2 linked regions of the Homo sapiens genome follow. The protein of the gene in region 2 interacts with the protein of the main gene of each other region in a pairwise test. Each region holds a gene or a part of one and is shown on either strand. Other genes may lie near its edges.

Region 1 (3,802 bases), on a different chromosome or scaffold from region 2:
GGCAGGGTTCCAGCACCCACAGGCCACCCTAGGTCACTCTGTTAGCAGACAGCCCATCTGGGCAGCGCCTGGGCCCCAGGGCACTCTGGCCGGGCTGGGAGCTCAGAGCGGGAGGAGCAGGAACGGCCTAGTGAACAGCTGATGCAGAGAAAACGCTTTCCCCTGAGGGCAGGTGCCCAGGCAGCCGCTATGAGCTGACTGCTAGGAGGAGAAAAGAACACCACGTGCTTGGCTGTGTCCTCAAGGGACACTCCTGTCCCACCCCTAGCAGGCATGCTGATGTCCCTGGGCTCTGGGACCCAGTCGGCAGCTGTGCCTGTAAACACACTGTCTGGCCTTCTAACATTTGGGTCAGTGCAGTGAGGGTGGCATGGGGTCCCCGGTGAGCAGGGGCCCCCACACCCCAATGTCTCCAGGGACACAGCCCAGAGCCCTGAAGATGAGGATGGGAAACAGGGCCTGGTGGTGTCTGGTGAGTGTGTCACCTGATCAGCCTTCTCAGAGTGACAGGCCAGCAGGATGCCGTGTCCCTGGCTGACAGAAGGAGGAAGCCACAGGCCAAACCCAGACTCCCTCTGGGTAGAATAGTGAGGGTCTTGAGGAACCCTACGGGGCCTGCCCCAGCCCTGCCATCTCCCCGCTCAGGCCAACGGCACCTCCTCCCAGCATCAGCCTTCTGGTGCAGCTCCGGACTCAGACGCCTTTCCTTGGAAACCGTAGCTAGTGGCCCCCTGCCCCATGGATGGCTCCAGGAACTCACCGGCCCCTCCCAAGGAGACCTGGCTGAGGGCTGAAGCGGAGTGAGGAGAGGGCTCTAGCCTGCACCTCGGCCTGCTCCGCCCCTGGTCCTCCCCGGGCCTGTGTGTGGAAAGGCTCACGGCAGAGCCTCCGTGTGCGTGAGATTGTCCTGGGGGACCTCCCAAGCCCCTCTGAGCTGCTGCTCAGGTCCCAGTCACCAGAGGTCACCCCGGGGTGCTTGCCACCCCCCTGCCAGCACCTCACAGTTCTGGCCCACCAGACAGCAGCTCCCTGTCTCTCGCTGGCTCTGCCCAGCCCCTGGCCCTCGGCCTTGGTGTGTCATCTGGGGAGGGCAGCACTACCTGTCACAGGCAACAGTGGGGGTCAAGAGAGAATGCACACAGCTCGGTGACCGGCACTGGGACCTGATGGCGTGGTACCGGACAACACCTGACATCATATCCCCCTGGGGCCGGCGACGGATGCTGGGCTGTAAAAACCTGAGGGAAACTTGTCTGAGGCCTGCCTAAGGCTCAGGGACCTAGCCGAGGGACACTGTAAAGAGAGGCTGAGTCACCCTGAAACCCAGTGGGTGGGAGCAGCTTTCTGACTTCAGCTTTCCGCTCCAATACAGAAGCCAAACGTAAAACGCATCACAGAAGGCTGCTCGCTCTCTACAGAGCCCAGGCTCCTGCGACAGTGCGGGGCCCACGCTGCTGTGCCCTTCTCCGTCCTACAGAGGTGGGGACCCATGCCCGAGGACAGGAGCCGGTGGGGCGTGTGCTGGCTGAGCCAGAGGTGAGAGCCCAGGACTTCTCAAGTCATGAGCTCGGACCATGAGCCCCATCAAGGGAGGTGGAACGCAAGGGCCTCGTGTCCGTGTCCGTGACCCTCCTGCCCTCGGGCCTGCCCTCCAGCTCCAGGTGGGTGGACCCAACCCTGATCCCCAGCGCACAGACAAAGCATCAAGATGACAGGAGGCCAGCCCGGGGTGTGGGTGGGCCACACTCCTGATCCTGGGCATGGCAGCCCACAGAGGCGGCCTCAGACCGGGACGACACGCGGTGCCTGCCCACCAGGATGCTCCCTGGCCTCAGAAAGTGGAGGCTGGGAACCAACCAGTGCTGAGCCCCGCAAAGGCCGGCCCATCTCTCCAGAAACCCTCCCTGCCGGCCTGTGCCCTGCTACTCACTGATGGGAAAATCGTGCCTCAAGCAGGAGGAGGGAGAACCAGACCTCCAGGTCAGCCGCAAGCCTTGGGCATCCAGGGTCCCTGTCCACGCCCAGCCCCTGACAGTCAGGTGAACACAGGGCCAGGCCCGGGAGGGGCGTGGCTGGTGGCAGCTGAGGAGGAAGGTGGGCTGGTCCCAAGGGGGTGCAGGGCAGCCCCAACTTTAACCAGCTACAGTGCCCAGCACATGCGGGCACTTCCTGGGTGCAAGGCCCTTTGGACACCCATCACGTTTAATCCTCCTAACGCCCTGCCTGATGGACAAGGAAACAGCCTGAGAGGAACTCGCCCAGGTCAGGAGCCAGGACGTGGCAGCCAGAACAGGGATTTGAACCCTGGCCTGTTGGGACCCACCCAGGCCTGGCGCTGCCTCTGCCATGGTCTCAGGCTTGGAGCAGAGTCCAGCCCCTTGTGGCACAGATGTGGAGGAGGGGCCAGAGACAGGAAGGATTTCCTCAGGTCACACAGCAAATTCGCAGGGGAGGGTGGCAGGGCCAGCTTTCTAGCACCTGCATCTCCGAGAGGTTTGTGGACGTGCCCTGGGCAAAAGGCCTACAAGACACCAGGCCAGGGAAGTGCCATGCTGAAGGTGCCAGGTGACGCACCCGAGGAGCCCAGGGCACTTGGAAGGGTCAGGCCGCTCCCCTGGCACCTAATCAGAAAACCTCATTGTGGCAGCTGCTACCTGTCCACTGTGCCAAGTGCTGTGCAGGCTGCTCCTCAGGTCTCTTGTCTAACTCGAGGGTCCTCACCAGAACCCTAACAGGAGAGCTGGCATCATGTCCATTTTACAGATGAGGAAACTGAGGCTCAGGAGCACGTCTACATCTGCTAGGGGGCTGAGCTGGCATCCCAGCATAGCTCTCTTCTCTCCAGAGCCCAGGCTCCCTGCCCCTCGGTTGAGATGGACAAAAGTCTCCAGGAATGACTACAGGGGAGGCTGCCAAAGCATGCAAGCTTCCCCATGGAGGAAAACGCCAAAACCCTCCAACGCAGGTGTCCTGCCCCGCCCGCCAAGCCACTGTTGGGCTGCCATCCCACTGCCTCCCCCGCCCGTGGGCAGCCAAGGTGTGCGGAACTGGGAGAATTGGGTCTGCTCAAAGCTCAGCTTGTCCTGCATGAGGCTGCATGCATCAGTGTCTGCCCCTTAACAATCAAATGGGGAACACTGCTCTGCTGTTGCTGTATATCTGGGAACACAGTGATTCTGGGCCTGCAAGGCTGGAAGTCCAACCCTGGGACTGGGTGGCCACAGCATGGTGGCACCACGCCATGGGAGCCATCTGGGCGGCCAACCAGCAGCTCTTGGGAACCAGTCCTTGACTGCCTGGGTGCAGCTTCCTGAAACCGCTCCACTGGCTCGTTCAGAGCCTGCCTGCAGAGGGCCAGTGATAAATCTCCCCACTCTTTTCTCATTGGCAACGCAGACAGGTCCTGGAAATGCCCAATTTCCAGGTTAAGAATCAGACCCCAGCTCTGGCAACGAGCAGCTTGATATCTCCCAGGGCCATTCCTGAGCCTCCCGGGAAACAGGCCAGCATGCCTGAGCATCCCCCGCCTGGAGAAGGAACAAAGACCCAGGACCAGCCAGCCTGGTCCCCCTCTTCTGGGGGACCCTCCCGAGTAGAGCAAGAGGGGAACCTGAGGGTCCTGGGGGCTGCCCCTTCAGAGTCACCCAGGAAGCTCTCCTGGAAGACCACAGTCTGTACACATGCATGCAGGGACACACACCCACACAGGGACAGGCCCTTTGCCTTGGGGTCTTCAGTGTCAAAGTGCTCATGAGCCCTGGGGATTAAACCGAAGACCTGCACACAGTGTGATCAAGAGATC
Region 2 (3,802 bases):
GGCTAGCCTGGCTCAAGCCTTCCTAGTTGGAGCCAAAAGCTCTGAGCCAGAGCCCAAAGTGGCTGGTCAGACCCCATCAAAAGGCAGAGTACCCACGGCTGCGATCAGCAGCAGGGACTATGGAAGGTTCTGGATTCTGGAGGTGCTGGGTTCTTCTGCATGGAATGGAGTCACAGAGCACTGAAGCTGGAGGCGGCCTCAGGAGCACCGAGCCCTTAGAGCTCCTGGGGAGGATGAACACGGCCCCACACTCCCTGCCTGGGGAGGACGGACGTCATCCCACACGCCCTGCCCGGGGAGGACAGACGCCACCCCACACTCCCTGCCTGGGGAAGTCGGACGCCGCCCCACACCCCCTGCCTGGGGAGGACAGACGCCGCCCCACACCCCCTGCCTGGGGAGGACGGACGCCGCCCCACACCCCCTGCCTGGGGAGGACAGACGCCGCCCCACACCCCCTGCCTGGGGAGGACGGACGCCGCCCCACACTCCCTGCCTGGGGAGTGAAGTGGCCCTGGGGGCGCGGTGGGGGTGAGGACAGGAGCGAACCCCAGAGCAGAGCAGGGCAGGGCAGAGTGGAGCGTGGCCCGTCTGTCTCAGGGTGGACCTCAGCATGGAGGGTGCCAAGGGCAGGCACACCTGGCTATGGCTGGTCCCCCAGGTATGGTATCACACTTGATAATGGCACGGGGGACCTCGGGGGTCCAGGGACCACACCCAGAAGATGGCGGGGAACTGGCCAGGACGAGCCTCTTTCCTGAGTGTGGGCAGGGTCTGCTTCTGGGACGCCGGCTCCTAGAGTCCCACTAAGTTTTCTGCCAGGTCACTAGGCAATGGCAGAAAACAAGACAGCTCCACTTGGGCCACAGACCTGGACACCCTGCAAGGACACTGCCTGGCCTGCAGGAGGGAGCTGGTTCTTAGCCCACTTCTGTGCCCCCTGCAAGCTACTCTGTCTCCTCCAGGCCCCGAATGCTGCCCTGCTGCATAGCCAGTCCCTTCTTCCTGGGGGCACCTCCAGGACAGGCTCTTTCTTGGCCCTTGGGAATGGCCCACTAGACACGCTGGTGGGGACGCAACCATCCAGAATTGTTTCAGCCATGTCTCTCTTCCCCAGGCAGTCCCTGCCGCCGTATCTTGGCTTACGTCTCAACCAGACTCTTGAACATGGTGGCATAAACCAGCAAAAATGAAGCCGGCCCTCTGTCTTTAACCCGGGCGCAGCCACATGACATGTCTGCTGATGCCTGCCAATGGGAGAAGAGGGGTGGCTGGGAACAGACCACCTGCTCAGGAGTCAGAAAACCCTGACTCCAAATCTTTGCTGCACTACTCGGCTCTGCAACTCCAGACAAATCACCCTCTCTGAGCCTGTCAAATGGGACGACAACGAGTTTTGAGGAGTAGGTGTTAGAGCATCAGGCCTAACGAAGGAACTCCGTAGACACCTCCTCTCTTTACCAGAGACAACCCGGGCGCTGCAATGCCTGAGGCCATCAGCGCGTGTGAAAAGCAGGGCTACAGCAGACTCCAGACATGGCCAGGGCTCTGGGGCCACCCTCACGACAGCAACAAGTGCGATGGCAGCCACCCCCACCCCCACCACAGTGGGGAGTATCCCACTTGGTTCACACCACCGTCCTGTGAGACAGGAGGAGGAAACGGAGGTGGGGGGCAGGGGACTGTGCCGGGGGCCCAGGTCACACAGGGAGCAGCGGGGGAGGGGATTGGGGAAGGGGTGCCTGGGGTCAGGCCCAGGGGCAGCAGTTGGGTGGAGGCACAGCAGCTCCTAGGGCTGCTACACATAGCTGACAGCAGGCAGCTGAGCACTCGACTCTCCGGAGCAGCCCCAACCCCAGTCCCACGGGCCCACCTGGTGTGCGTCCTCTGCCCGCCAGTGCCCTGCCGACGGGCCCGTGGTGAGGGAGGATGGCGGAGGAGAGGGGTCCAAAAGGAACAGTCGCAACTCTGTCATTTAAAACCCTCCCGGCTCTGAGGACACACCTGTCTTCCGTATGCTGGTACCAAGCAGGCGACTGTCCTGCCTCTTCTTGAATACCCACAGGGACGAGGACTCACTAAGCGCATGACAACCAAGTGTCCATTCTGATGACATCTGGAGTATGTCCCCAAAACTTCAAGATGCTAGGGCAGACCTGCTTCCTCCTCTGGGTGACAGAGCCTCCTGCTGTCCTCCGGCCCCTTCCTGCACCCAGAGCCCCTGCCTTGGCCCTCCCTCTGGCGTGCCAATGGCATCTGTGACAGCAAACTGAGACCACGGCCAAGGGCGCATCTGTGCTCGGAGGATAGCCCCCCGCAGGCTGTGCCCAATGGGCCCCTTGGCCAAAAGCCAAGGAGTCAGAGGCGTAGCCCACAGCACTGAGGCGAGCAGCCACCATCCCTCATGAGGGTTAGCCCCCCCAAACACTGAAGCCAGTGGCCACCTCCCTCATGAGGGTGAGCCCCCAACACAAATCCTAAGCTTTCTGGGCACTCAGGATGCTCGGGGAAAGGCTCATTTTGGATATCCAGATTAAGCATAATGCAAATATTCCCAAATCCAAAAACAAAATCCGACATCCAAAACACTGCCGCTCTCAAGCATTTAGGAAGAGGGATACTCGACCTGCATTAGGAAAGAAACAAACGTACCATTGAGGTTGCGTATGAGTCTCGCTTCCTTCTCCCCATCTTCGTCCAAGCCGTCAAGCTTTAGTTTCTTCCAGGCGAGTTCGTCCCTCTCCTGTATCTTCAGATCAGCGTGGAGCTCGGCCAGCCTCACGGGAGGAAGATGCAGCTGCGAACGAAGGGGAGGAGCCTGTGAGCCACGAGCAGGACGGACCAGGACACAGCGAGAAACTGACCTCGGAGGAGGCTGGCCACCGGGAGGTTCTGGGAGACCAGGAAGAGGTGGAGTCAGGGTCACTGTCAGCAGGATTCAAACCCCACAGGTTTAGACAAGAACTCAACATGGACACCAGTCTCTAGGCCTGTCTGTATACACGATCCGGAAACCCCAAGTCCATCGGGGGCTCCCCACCAGCAGCGGCTGCTCATTCCTGTCCGGCTGTAACAGGACACCCCACCCTAGCACCTGAGGACAGTCATCGGGCACTCGGATAAACAGAGCAGGAAGAAGATACCCACTGCATTACCATTGCAGATACATATTGCAAGGACACAGACACCTAGAAGTTCTTTTTTAAAAAAAATCACTGTAATCTCAGATCTGCCCCATCTTCATTTCCCAAAGACCCTCAGTCACCACCTCTCAAGTGTACCATGATCCGAACTGTCTTGCTGAGACGGTTCTTACACAGCCCCAGATCCTTCTGGAGCAGGAATCTGTCACCCTCTCACTTACCTGCTGGCGTAGACCACACAGGCAGCGCCCCGGAACGAGCTGCCGCACTGGGGCTGAGGAACTTCCCCGCCCCACCCTCATCCCTCTCCGCAGGGCAGGCCACGCTTCATTCATCCCACCCCTGCCCTCCCAGCTCTGGGACCCTGGGTGAGAGAAGGAAGCAAGTGAGGTGACCGCTGGGCACACTGCTTTTTGGTTGCAAAGACAGGATTTAGGCCAAGAGTGTCCCCACGTCAGAAAGACTGGGCCAGAATGCCAGGCGGCCGAGGCAAGCAGCAGAATGAAACCCACCGGCCAGCTCTCATCAACTCTGGCCTCGGGGCTGGCCCGGCCGCTAAGAGGCGTGCGCTGGGGCAGGCTAGCCCTTCAGGGAAGCGAAGGCTCTTCCGTGCAGAGCAGAGTGGCCCAGCTGTGTGAACCAGAACGTGTCATGAGGTG

Evidence for each region.
Region 1: the proteins of LRPAP1 (region 2) and RALGDS interact in a two-hybrid assay, tested with the Homo sapiens proteins (one study listed by BioGRID).

What each region holds. Positions count from the first base shown.
Region 1 is NC_000009.12:133,114,523-133,118,324, forward strand, and holds part of RALGDS (ral guanine nucleotide dissociation stimulator), read right to left. Parts: intron 1-3,802. UniProt on the Homo sapiens protein: Functions as a guanine nucleotide exchange factor (GEF) activating either RalA or RalB GTPases and plays an important role in intracellular transport. Interacts and acts as an effector molecule for R-Ras, H-Ras, K-Ras, and Rap.
Region 2 is NC_000004.12:3,522,255-3,526,056, forward strand, and holds part of LRPAP1 (alpha-2-macroglobulin receptor-associated protein precursor), read right to left. Parts: intron 2,798-3,802; coding exon 2,653-2,797; intron 1-2,652. UniProt on the Homo sapiens protein: Molecular chaperone for LDL receptor-related proteins that may regulate their ligand binding activity along the secretory pathway.